2 separate regions of the Homo sapiens genome follow, and region 2 is linked to region 1. A link means that fine-mapping ties the variant in region 1 to the expression of a gene that starts in the linked region. Tissue or cell type: thyroid. Region 1 holds a variant in brackets; the other region holds the start of a gene. All regions are shown on one strand. Distances are from middle to middle.

Region 1 (2,841 bases):
AACCTCCTGGGCTCAAGGGATCCTCCCACCTCAGCCTCCTAAGTAGCTGGGGACTACAGGTGTGCATCACTATGTCCAACTAAGTTTTTAAAAAAATTTTTGTAGAGACAGTATCTCACTATGTTGCCCAGGCTGATCTCAAACTCCTGGCTTCAAGCAATCCTCCCATCTTGGCTGCCCAAAGTGCTGGGATTTACAGGCAAGAGCCACCATGCCTGGCTGATTAGTATATTTTCTTTAAAATTTTATATCTAGCTACTTTTCCAATTTAAGTTATTAATTCCAATCATATTTAATAGAGTGTCACTGATTTTCTAAATGTGTAGCCAAACCATCCATGGGTCTTTAGGAAGACATTTGGATCCCTTTAATGTACGTGGGAACTTACATAAGCCAGAAATTCAGAAGCCATAAATGACGAACTTGGCTATATAAGATATTTCTAATTCTCACGAATAATAATAACCAGCATATATTGAGCATTATTTTAAGTAGTTTACATTTAGAAAATGCTAGCTAAAAATTAGTTCTATTACTTTTGACAACTATTAAAGCCAGCTAGCAATCTCTGTCTTAGGCACTTTTGTAGCTTTCAGTCATGGAAGCAGGATTGAAGCCAAGCAAAGATAAATTTGAGAAGAGGTAAGAATTACCAGAGAAGGAAAAAGGAGGCCTCAAATTTCCTGGAGAGTATAACAAGCGATGTGGAAAACAGTAGGGTCAGAAAGGAACCCAATACATCGGTGAACTCCATTGTAGGGAGCGCTACTTAAGAGGGGTAAAAAGGCCCCAAATCTCTCTTTTTAACCTACCTTAAGAGCAACAGGTTACCTTAGCTTTATGGAGGCAACCGTATGTGGTTGTGTGTCGGCGAGGAGGTGGAAACAGCACTGGCATTTGTTTTCTAGCAACGTGCTCAAACAGCCATTGTCTTGAACTTGGTGCAGACTTCCGCCAAGCTACATCACCTCTTAATTGATACAGCTTGAGACTATCTCCCATCACAAAGAATGCTTCTAGATCTGCCTGGGGACCTGGGACATTCCATTTCTCGTGCCAGAGAACCACAATATAGCTATCCTTCTAGTTAAACTATCCTTCTAGGGTCCTGTTAA[A/G]CCTAGTAACAGAAACTTGGTATCACCACAGCAAATATTAATCAATATAATAGTTAGTCTCTGCATTCTTTGTTATTCCATCCCTTACTGCCTAGAGAATTTGCATGTCACATTAAGCAGTGGTGTTGGTATTAAAATGTGTGACCAATCTTGAAATGTTTGCGTCTTAAAAAAAAAAAAAAAAAAAAAAAAAAAAAAGTTGTGCTCAGCGTCTTGCAGGTAACAGTCCCCTCCACCAGAGGTCTCTAGCTCACTGACATTATCTGAATTTATAATAGCTCTTCCAACAGGCTATGCTGAATCTGTGAGGTCCAATAGAATAGCCACTAGCCCCATGCAGCTATCTAAATGTAAATTAGCTAAGATTAAATAAAATTAAAAATTTAGTTCTTTGGCTGCCCTAGCCACATTTTAAATGCTCAAAGCCACATGTGGCTATTGGCTCCAGTATTGGCTAATACGGATATCTAACATTTCCACCACTGCAAAAAGTTCAAGTGGATATGTTACACTAAGTTCTGTTAACTCACAAATGTAGAAATAGCATTTCGGGATCACAGTGTTAAAAGGACAAAGAGGCAGTATCTCTCCTGTACTGTAACTGAATCCTCCCTTTATCCAGGTGGTATCCTGGGTGGATGATGACAATGTTCTTTGTGATCATATTCAGCTTATTTTTCCCTCACAACCAGCACGTTGTATCACTATATTTTAATAATTCATAGATATAATTTCAATTCTTCTCTTATTGAGAAAATCAGGGCTGGCAAATTTTAAGAAAGAGATATGGTTTAAAAAAAATCAGAAGGCCTTAATGCCATCCTCAACTCTACGCCTAACGAACTGAGAGCTCTAGAGAATGTTGTTGGACTTCTCTGGGCCTGCATTTGCTCCTGCATGAAATAAGTGGGCAATTAGATGTTCTCTAAGACCTCAAACACTTGAACCCATACCCACAGTGCAGCAGGACTGTTGTGTGTGCTCCTTGTAAGTAAAACTAATCTCTGACCCATCCAAGAGGTTCCAGTATGCTAGAGCATGTGGGAGGCTTCTGCCTCATGTCAAGACGTGCTCTAAAGTCACAGAATTGTGTTGCTCCAAAATGGCAGTGGTCAACACAATTGGCTGGCAGTTTAGACCACATTAGAAGATAATCGCTATTTTTAGTATAAATATTATTTTCCCTTTTATCTTAAGGGATAGTACCAATTCCATTCTTTATTGCTAATAAGTTACCAGTAGTATATCACTGCAGTGAGAATATTTCAAAATAACCCTGTAGCTTTATTCCAAAGACCTCAGTTATAGACTTACTCTCATTTTGTGGTCACTCCAAAAACAAAAACAAAAGCCTCCTTAGGCAGATCCCTCAATTATTCCTCTCTGTAAAACATCATTCCTTGAAATGGACATCACTCTTTTCATAAAAACGTGACATAGACTATATTCTATATTCAATACACTCTCATGGAACAAGTAAGATTTTTAATTATTTTGAAGAAAAAGATGAGCTTATTTTCAGTTTTCAGATTCCAGCTTTTCTCAACCTCTGGATGAAAATATTTTTACACCTGGAGTTTCTCTTGCAGTTAGCATTCATCCGTCAGTAAGTAGGCCAAATCCTTGTTCACTTGCAGGTAGTCCATGGCTTAACATGTCTGTAATTCACAGAAGGCTGAATATGGGGTAAATAAATAAAACTGAGCTTAAGGAGAAAAACTATGTG
Region 2 (2,671 bases), 35 kb before region 1:
TTTTCCGCGCCATTGGCCCGCCCGGCCCGCCCCAACCGACGGCGCCCTCCTGACCCAGGCAGCCTAGCGCTGGGGCCCAAGAGGCCCATCCGCGGGGAACTGCCAGCGCCTGCCCCAGGCCGTACCGTCGAGGGGGCTGTACTGGAGCGCTCACAGCCCCAACCCTGGCTGCCCTCCCTCAGTCTCAGTTCCCTCTTTCGAACCAAAAGACGCAGTGGGGGAAAGGCCGCTTCTGCTCCTTTCGTGCCCAGCCCGGGTCAGAGCATTAGGATTAGCTGGCCACAGGCGGCGAACTGGGCTCAGGCCGGGAGCTGGGGTCCTACGGTAGACCCCAGTTTGGAGAGGTTAGGAGAGGGGGTGTTGACTTCCAAAAGCTGGAGCCCCCAGACGCTTTGCCTCTTGGCTTCTCTCCTGTCAGGCCCCAGTGAGGGCACCTGCTCGGACCCTTAGAGTCCCCTCTGGAACTGCGAGTCCTCCCACCTGCCCAGACTCCGCTGGAGAGAGGGCCGGGCCGGGCGCTCGAGTGCCTCCCAACAGGGCAGCCTCCCTCCTGGCCCGGTCTAGCCTCTCCGCGCTCTGCTCGCCCCTGCTCCTTGAGCTCGGGGTCGCTTCCCTTGGCTCCCCGAGGTCTTCTGCGCCGAGCAGAGCTGCCAGTCCACCGCGCCTAGGAGACGCCGAGTACCCGCATCTGACCGCAGGACCCCAGCGCTACCAAGTGCCTGTTCTTGGACCCCCAGCCGAGCAGGGGGAAGCATCCCCAGCTCCCGCACCCAAGTCCCTGGCGCCGCTGCCGGGCCGCCCTCCCTGATGCCCAGCGCGCAGCCTGCCGGCGCCGCGCCTTCTGGACGGCTCTCGCCGCACCTCCTGAGCTCAGCCCGCGGCCCCGCAGTGGGGCGGCCTCACTTACTGGCGGGGAAGCGCGGGTCTGGGTTGGCGCCGTACCATCCGGGGCCAGAGGCGCTGTTCCTCATGGTGTCCTGGTACGGCGGCAGCTCGCTCATGTTGCCCAGGTTGCCGTTGCAGTAGCCCCCCACGGCGGAGTGCGAGAGCTGGGGCACCCCCGCCGCCGTCATGTGGTAGGCGGCGGTGACGGCGCCGTGGTGCCCCACGGCGTGCTGCTGCATGGCCGCTGTTGGCGGTGCCGCCTGGCCCTGCCTGTACGCCGCCAGCGGAGCCCCGAGGCCGCCGCCCTCCATGCCCACTTTCTTGTAGCTTTCCTCCAGGGGACTCAAGATGTCAGACACTGAGAACGGAGTCGTGTGCTTTGGACTCATCGACATGATTCGGCGGCGGCTGGAGGAGGAAGGAAGAGGAGGAAAAAAAAGGGAGAGGGGGAAGGCGAAGCCTCGCTGCTTTTTTTTTCTCCCTTTGCCAAATATTCTGGTGTTACCTTAACGCCGATCTTGTTGGATGTACACGTAACGGAGTGGACCGAGTCCTCCTTAATTGGCTTGAGTGGAGGCTCGGGGGCTGCCTCGCGTTTGTTTTAGCCCGGCGCCAGGTTTTAGGCAGCCACCAGAGGCGGGGCGTAAGCGCTAAAGCAACAAGACAATAGAAGCCTACATCTTGCCCGAGATAATTAGCTTACATGCTGATGACAAGGTAAACACCTTTAAGTTTCACTTGTCAGGATTTTTAGGTCTCAAAGAGAGAGAGAGAGAGGCAGAGACGAGACCCAAAGCATTTCCCCCCTCCCTTGGACACCCCCACCCCCATTTTTTGTGGGGTACCAGCGGAGCGCGGGGAGGAGGTGGAGGGGAGGGGAAGGAGGAGGGAACCGAGAGCGGGGAGGGCAGGAGGTGGGGTGGGGGAGTAACAGAGGAGGAGAGATGGTTGAGAGGAAGGAAGGTGAATGCTGCTTTGCAACCAACTTGCGGAGTTACAAAGTGGAACCACTTTCCAATTCGGTCGGGGTTCCCCGGGCACGGACAGGTCTTTAGGAGGAGGGGGCTGAGGGACAGGGTGGGGGTTTCACCTGAGCCTGCCGGGGCTGCTCCTCCCTCCCGCCGCGGCCTCCCAGCCCCGCGCCTTCCCACTGCCTCCGGACCACATCGGGCTTCGCTGCGCTGAGCCCCAGTCGCCAACAAATGAGCGAGCGAGTCTGGGGACGAACCCTGGGGCCGCACTGTTGGTCTACGTGTCTGTCAGTCTGTCTGCCTCTCTTCTGCCGCCGTCAGAGGGACACCTCTGCTCCCCGCCCCCTTTCCCCCTACCGGAGAGAATCCGAGCGGGCGGAGGGGGCGCTGAGTAGGGGATCGACTGCCTCCCGGAGGCTGTCCCGGATCCCCGAGCCACAACCCGCCCCCGCAGCTCAGGGGTTTTTCAGTGGGCCACCCCCGCTAACACGCCTCCCCCAAGGTCTTCCCCCCCCCCCCCCACCCCCGGCCGAGCAAACACAGCACTGGCCCCCAGAGCTGGGAGGATGGGAAGGGGTCTCACGGGAGGGTCCGTCACTGAAGTTGCCCCACCTCGAACAAACCTGGTGTCCCTGACCCTCGCCCATCTCCCAGACACGCGGGGATCTGGGGCTGGAGCTGACTTTCCGAGGACATCACAGCCCCAGCACCCGAGCCCAGAGCCACGCTGTTTTCCCCTCTGATGCTTCAGGGAGCGCGCGAGCAGGGAGCGGCGTGAGTGCCCGTCTGTCTGTTGCCGGGCGGAACTGAGCCTG

Evidence for each region. PIP is the estimated chance that this variant, and not a neighbour inherited with it, causes the effect.
Region 2: NKX2-1-AS1 starts here. The variant in region 1 is fine-mapped to the expression of NKX2-1-AS1 in thyroid (GTEx, PIP 0.95).

Annotation. Positions count from the first base shown.
Region 1 is chr14:36,552,496-36,555,336 of GRCh38, forward strand. The region is part of intron 1 of LOC105370453 (a long non-coding RNA gene); the gene reads left to right. Among named protein-coding and RNA genes, the nearest start is that of NKX2-8, 29 kb to the right of the region's middle. The variant A/G (reference allele first, on the strand shown) is at 1,116.
Region 2 is chr14:36,518,078-36,520,748 of GRCh38, forward strand. It overlaps NKX2-1-AS1 (NKX2-1 antisense RNA 1), which reads left to right and starts at 1,201. Exons shown (of 2, transcript NR_103710.1): 1 at 1,201-1,602. NKX2-1 (NK2 homeobox 1) reads right to left here and starts at 2,155. Exons shown (of 3, transcript NM_001079668.3): 1 at 1,976-2,155; 2 at 908-1,293. The coding sequence starts at 2,052. SFTA3 (surfactant associated 3) reads right to left here and starts at 1,479. Exons shown (of 5, transcript NR_161365.1): 1 at 1,391-1,479. RefSeq lists enhancers at 1-412, 1,571-2,570, 2,571-2,671.